2 linked regions of the Homo sapiens genome follow. The protein of the gene in region 1 purifies or fractionates together with the protein of each later gene. This does not show direct contact. Each region holds a gene or a part of one and is shown in the gene's direction. Other genes may lie near its edges.

What was found.
Region 2: the proteins of CFAP45 (region 1) and SAR1B purify together in Homo sapiens (affinity purification with mass spectrometry; one large-scale study listed by BioGRID and IntAct). This does not show direct contact.

Annotation. Positions count from the first base shown.
Region 1 is NC_000001.11:159,886,666-159,890,165, reverse strand, and holds part of CFAP45 (cilia- and flagella-associated protein 45), read left to right. Parts: intron 1-1,669; coding exon 1,670-1,814; intron 1,815-2,154; coding exon 2,155-2,325; intron 2,326-3,476; coding exon 3,477-3,500. UniProt on the Homo sapiens protein: Microtubule inner protein (MIP) part of the dynein-decorated doublet microtubules (DMTs) in cilia axoneme, which is required for motile cilia beating.
Region 2 is NC_000005.10:134,601,829-134,605,328, reverse strand, and holds part of SAR1B (small COPII coat GTPase SAR1B), read left to right. Parts: 3' UTR 1-3,500. UniProt on the Homo sapiens protein: Small GTPase that cycles between an active GTP-bound and an inactive GDP-bound state and mainly functions in vesicle-mediated endoplasmic reticulum (ER) to Golgi transport.

The DNA of each region.
Region 1 (3,500 bases):
CCATTAGTACCCTCCCTAAAGGGAAGTGATCCAGATGAGTCACTTCCTTTCGGCTGCATTAAGAATCTGAAGCAAAGGGAAACTGACCAGATGCCTAATTAGCCCCCTGGCTTCCTCCCAGACTCTAAGGCCATAGGAAGAAATTCACAGGGGCTCCCTGGGTTCCTTTGGGATTAGCTCAACCCCACTTCCTGACTAGAGCTGCCCCCAGGCTTGAGCCCATCCTGTGGGACTTAGGCCTAGCTCAACCATGTGCCATGAGCCAACACTGTGCTCAGTGGTTTAACTCTTGTGTTAGTGCTTCACCCTCTACAACCGTTCTCCCTGCCCTGGCTCCACCCACTAAAAGCCCTAATTCCCAGAAAATCCTACCTGTGTCACAAGCTGGAGAGGCACATCTAGCACACACCCCGGGAGCTGTGTCGGACTGCGGCCCCTTACTGAGCATGTCTGGTCAGCCGTGGCATCAAGTGGCCAGATGTGGCTAGAGCCCTGCAGCCACTCCTGGAGCCAGAGGAAGGGAGGAAGGGTTCCTTCTTGGAGCCATCTAGTCCTGAAAACACGTTGGAGGACAAGTGGCTGGTTATTTTTCAGGGATGCTGAAAGCAGTATAAACTGCTGTCTTAGATTCGGATCACTGCTGGTCACTCCAGATCCTAGGCTGTTTAGGGCCACGTTGCTTTGTGAAACACAAGATCTTGGCTAAGCTGCAAATCTACTCACTCATTCTGTCCATCTCCTGGACCACCCTCCCCCAACACACACACATTAGTTTTATTAGATGAGGTTTCACTTCCTGTCTCAGATGTCTGTGTCTTATTGGCATGTACCTGTCAAATTGGCATGTACCTGCCTCACCCAGAAGCAGCTTTCTTCCCACCCCCCTAACTACTCCCTCCCCCATCTTTAATATATGTCATTTGCTTGTAATCATTATAATTAGCGATTGGTTTGTTGAATGCGTTGGATAGCTAGAAAGGAGAGGTCTATAGACATGTCTCTGGCTATTGTTGATCACAGATTTTAATTAATATTTACAGTTCAAAGCTTCTCTCTAGGCTGGATGGGCAGGGAAGCTTAGGTTTCTAACTAGCATCTATATCAACCTTGTCTGGCGTCCCCTTGCCGTTTTTATGTCATCCTTGAGGAATAATCTGTTTTTAAAATTTAATTCAACAGCTTTGTTTTGAATTCTCACTCTGTACCAAGCGCTATGCCAGAGACTAGGCTACCAGTGTGGTTAAGACAGAGTTTGTGTCCTGAAGGAGCTCATAAAGGAAACAGAGCTGCCCAATTGGCTGTGATACAGGCAGTAAGAACAGAGTGCAGTGTGGGCTCAGAGGAGGAGGTGATCTATTGGTCCTTGGTGGGGGGGCAGAGTGGGCACATGTGGACATGATGGGGGGTCTCAGCTGCACAGAGAAGGTAACATATGAGCAGGACCTAATAGAAAAAGGACTTAAAATGTCTCTTTTTAGCCTTCAATGCTACCTGACCCCCCACTTGGAACATCTACTCCCCAGTGGACCCATGGCACACTTGCCGTCTCTTCTGCCATTGGGGGAGTCCACTGGCATGATGGGAAGAGGGGAAGAGAGCAGAGAAGCCTGAAGTGTGGTGCTGAGAGCTTTCCCTCTCCCCTCCCTAACTCTGTTTATTCTTGTGACAGTGTTCCCACAGAGGATCCCTCCGGGGAGTCCCTAATCATCAGCCCTGAGGAGTTTGAGCGAATCAAATGGGCATCCCATGTCCTGACCAGAGAAGAACTTGAGGCCAGGGACCAGGCCTTCAAGAAGGAGAAGGAAGCCACCATGGTAGTTAACCTCCCTAAGCCTTCACCTCTGCAGATGGGTGGCAGAATCAAAATGCACTGGGGAACTCTCATCAGGGGACCCTGAAATGAGGCACAAATTATGTACTTAATGAAGAAATATTACAGAAAGGAGACCAAAGAGCAATACCTGAGATGAGAGGTGGGAGCAGCCGGGGCCAAGGGGAGGGCTGAGAATGAAGCCAGGCTGTGGAACTTCTTGGCTCTGACATCATCACTGGCCAAGGCAAAATTGTACTGGGTCACCTGTGGTAGCCAGGCTAGCGCCCAGGGCACAGAGCGCATGAAATAATCTCCCACTGAGCCAGACTGGTCTCCCTTAGGATGCAGTGATGACACGAAAGAAGATCATGAAACAGAAGGAGATGGTGTGGAACAACAACAAGAAGCTCAGTGACCTGGAGGAGGTGGCCAAGGAACGGGCCCAGAACCTCCTGCAGAGAGCCAACAAGCTGCGGATGGAGCAGGAGGAGGAGCTCAAGGACATGAGCAAGGTGGGCTCTTCGTCTCTCCCTTCCCTCTGAGCATTCACTGCCATCCCTCCGCCCTCCCCTTATTCCCGCACTGGACAAGGCCAGGGACTGGTGGGGGTGTGGGCAGGGGTGGGGCGGGGGAGAGCTGCACCTGCTGTGGTAGTTGCAGTGATCACAGTGAGGACTGGCTCTGCCACCTGTTCGCTGTGTGACCATGGGCAAGTCACTTGCCCTCCCTGAGCCTCACTTTCTTCATTTGTAACTTGAGGGTGGTAAAACTACTTTGTGGAATCATTGGCAGGATGAAATAAGGTAGTAGATGGGAGAGGCTTTGTGGGCTGAGGATTGGTAAATTAAATGTGCAGTGTTACTTTTATTTTCATCCTGTTAGTTCAGTTCTGGCCACGTATGGTGGTCGAGGCAATTGGATGCTTTTGGAGTACCCAAAGCTTTTCCTTTGGCTGAGAGCCTAAAGACCAGAGGCTCATTTGAATTCTGTTGTAACTCATTTGCATGTGGTTCACTTCCTTACCAAATGAAAAGTGCTGATTCCCCAATCCCTGCACCTCTGATTTCTGTCTCTCAGGTAAATCTTCTCTATGTATGCCTCCTTTAATTTTCTAAAGGTTTTACTTTTGGGTTCTTATTCATGGGCCCGTGGTTTTTCATCCCTTTTGTGTCATGTTGGGCTCTTCCAGCTTAAAAATCTTGTGGCCTGGCCTCTGCAAGAGTGTCTTAGCTCCCCTGAGGAGAACAAGGGGTCCAACCTGGAGTTCATGGGTCTCTAAGTGGAACAATGGACCTCTGAAGTTTTATAGAAATTTTGTGTGTACATGTATAAGTGAGTTTTATGGAGGAGAGGGCCGTTGCTTTCATCATATTTCCAAAGGGTGACCCATTACCACCAAAACCCTAAGATGTAGCTCCCTGAAAGATGCTATTCCAGGCCCCTCCTTGCACAGACCCTGGCACCTAGCAGGAGGCCAGTAAATCTTTGAGCTAAACTATATTAAGGGGAAAGGTAAATATAAGAACATTCTTATTTCCCCGGACTTGTGAGCAGTCATGCACACCTCCAGCATGCTCAGCAGTATAGCATTCTGTTTCCATTTCTTCCCCTTAAACTTACACATCCCTAGGCCTAGTGCTACAGTTTAATCTCCACTCTCCAGATTATCCTCAATGCTAAGTGCCAT
Region 2 (3,500 bases), on another chromosome or scaffold:
GACCCTCAAGTTTAAGATTTATCCTGATTATAAGCCAAGTTTTATAGTATATTTAACCAATTCCATCAAGAATAATTTTAATATCAAAAATTAGTGTTTTCTGTAGCCATTGTCCATGTCAGAGTTACAGTCCTTTTTGTCATTGATAATATAACCTATGAAGCAGATAAGGATTGAGGAATATGACTGGAAGGAATTACTATTTAGCTAAGCTGACAAGGTCGCTTCTTAAGATGACATTTGGTTTCAGTAATCTGACTATTCTGTTTTCACTTTCATCTTCTTTCTAAATGAAAACAAAAGTGCTCCCTCCCTTCCTGGAAACCTCAGTAACACTATGGGAAAAGTAGAACATGACATTGCAGCCTATTGATTTCTTCTTCCAGATAGGTTTAAAGTACTCCTTAAGTTCTGACTAAATAGAACTAAGCCTTATTAAAAATAACTGCCTCTTGTTCATGTTATCTGTACCTTCAGGGACCTGCCTTTCTTCAAGTATTTCCTAGAGTATCTATTATGATACTGAAGAAGCTAATTATTTGTGTTGTAAATGGGTATAAATGAAAAAAAAACATACTGGTTTCTCTAGCCAGGAAAAATGCTTTCTGGTGTAATATATCTTGCTCCAGAACCCTCATTCTAATTGTAACACTAGGATCAAAGAAACAAAGTCACTTTGTGGACCACAGCTAAACTGTGGATATTTTCCCAAAGACATAAGATTTTTATGGCCCGAGCCTCTAGAAAGGAAGCCATGTTTAGGAGCAACCAGCTTTCCTCCCAGCTTTAGGGGGCAGAGTTCCTGAGCCAGAGGACTTACTGTCCAGCTTTGAGAACCTCTCCAGAGTATATGCACTGGGTACTGCTCTTTTTCAAGAGAACCAAATTAAGAGGATGGCAAGAAACAGTAGAAGCACAGAGGAAAGACAACTCTGCATGTGCCTGTGTGAATGTGTGCATCCATGGAGTATTTCCCAGGTAAATACTAGTACTGGGGACATAGGCTAATTGTGTGTCCCACACTGCAAGATGCTAGGGCGTAGTTAACACTGTGGTATACATACAAATCAGGCACTGTCCAAAAGATTTTTTAAAATCTAAAGTCTGAAATGTAAAAATATAAGGTCTCAACCCACTTTTACACTTTTAAAGAGATCCCATACCTGTTTCACTGACTGCCGTTAATTACACTTTTGGATCACAGCTGGTTAAATTGATAGATTTCAGTTTATCTCAGTGAATTTTTAGAATGGAGATTATAGCATTTTTTAATTGGAGAACAGACATTTCCTAAAGTATATGAAAAAAAATTATTCACTGTTGGTTTAAACCAGTATCTTTGTATGAGTGCCAAAGATATATGAACACAGATACTGCCTGTGCAGACCTAAATTTTAGTTTTGTGTACCTGGATCCATATACAAATTTTTTGTGGTTTATAGCATAAAAGCAGAACGTTGTTTCTTTCTTAGTTTTCAACCGGCTCATCTTTTGTTTTTGTTTTTTGTTTTTTTGTTTTTTGTTTTTTTTGAGATGGAGTCTTGCTTTGTTGCCCAGGCTAGAGTGCAGTGGCACAATCTCTGCTTACTGCAACCTCCACCTCCGGGGTTCAAGTGATTCTCCTGCCTCAGCCTCCTGAGTAGCTGGGACTACAGGCGCGCACCACCATGCCCGGCTAATTTTTGTATTTTTAGTAGAGATGGGGTTTCACTATGTTGGCCAGGCTGGTCTCGAACTCCTGACCTCGTGATCTGCCCACCTCAGCCTCCCAAAGTGCTGGGATTACAGGCGTGAGCCGCCATGCCCGGCCAATTTTCAACTGGCCCATACTTTATAGTGATGGAAAGCGCATAAACTACTTGTAAATCATTAAAATAGGGTGATAACTGTGATAATAGTGTTTCTTGCATTCTAGAAAATTATTTTATTAACTACATTCAAAACCCAGCATTTCACAGGTTCCATCATTAGAAACAGTATAGTTCTAGTTAACATGATTGGAGAGTTTCAGGGGAAAGGTTTACATTTTCTGAAACTGTATTTGGTATGTGACTCAATGTGGTATTTCAGTCTTGTTAGTCACTTACATGACTGACGTTTGCAAGGATTTATTGCCAAGTAAAATTTGACCAGAGTGCACTGAGAATAGCTACATAAGGGGAAATCTCTCAAAATTCCTTCTGTTCATTTAATTTGGAGCATATTGTTTAAATCATTTTAAACATATGTAAAAAGTTGAAGCATTAAAAAATCTTCAAGAAACAATGAAAAAATAGAAATTAGCAAACATAAGTTTCTTAATGCAAAATTAATAGTGAATAAAATATAGCCTACATTAAAAGCCAGAGGCTTTGCTATAAATATAAGAGTTTAGAAAAACAGTGTGCTTCAATTAAGGACTAAATTATCAAAACTGCATGTTTGTTTTTTCTTTTCTTTTCTTTTTTTTTTGAGATGAAGTCTCACTCTGTTGCCCAGGCTGGAGTGCAGTGGTGCGATCTTGGCTCACTGCAACCTCTGCTTCCCAGGTTCAAGCGATTCTCGTGCCTCACCATCCCGAGTAGCTGGGATTACAGGTGCACCACACCATGCCCAGTTAATTTTTGTATTTTTAGTAGAGACAGGGTTTCATTATTTGGCCAGGCTGGTCTCGAGCTCCTGATCTTAAGTGATCCACTCGCCTCGGCCTCCCAAAGTGCTGGGATTATACACATGAGCCACTGTGCCCAGCCTAAAACTACATGTTGAAGCTTCCGGTCATTTCCATTATTATCCTTCTTTTGAAATTCAAGTTAGTGCTTTTTAACCAAATAAAAGAAGAACCAGCTCTTGGGATATGTGACTCTGCCTCTGTATAAAGTGACTGGAATTTTGTTAAAACCGTGTTTCCACTTCTGAACCCTGTTACCATTCCCCCTCACAAATCCCCACCCAACACCTGGATTTTAAAGATCCTCCAGTGTCAAGGGAAGCCACAGAGTCTATTAAAGAGGCAGTTCTGAACCAATTAATTTTTGTCCTTATAATTTAGAGCATTAAATAGCTAATATATTTAATGGCACTAATTGTTGTTCACGGCTTTCATCATACTTTTAAACAGAATCCAAAGTATTCAAAGGAAAGTAAGCGAAGTTATCCAAAGCCAACTTTGTTTCAGGTGTGTCCCCTGCCCCAAATAGATTTTAGGGCAGAAATAGAAAACTGAGTTTACACAGAACTATTTTTGGAAAAGCTGCACTGGAGTAGATGGATTCTTCTTCAGCATACTTTTTTGTTTGTTTGTTTGAGATGGAGTCTTGCTTTGTCACCCAGGCTGGAGTGCAGTGGTGTGATCTCCACTCACTGCAACCTCCACCTCCCAGCTTCAAGTGATTCTCCTGCCTCAACCTTCCAAGTAGCTTGGATTACAGGCGTGCGCCACCACAGCTGGCTAATATTTGTATTGTTAGTAGAGACAGGGTTTCACCATGTTGTCCAGGCTTGTCGAACTTCTGACCTCA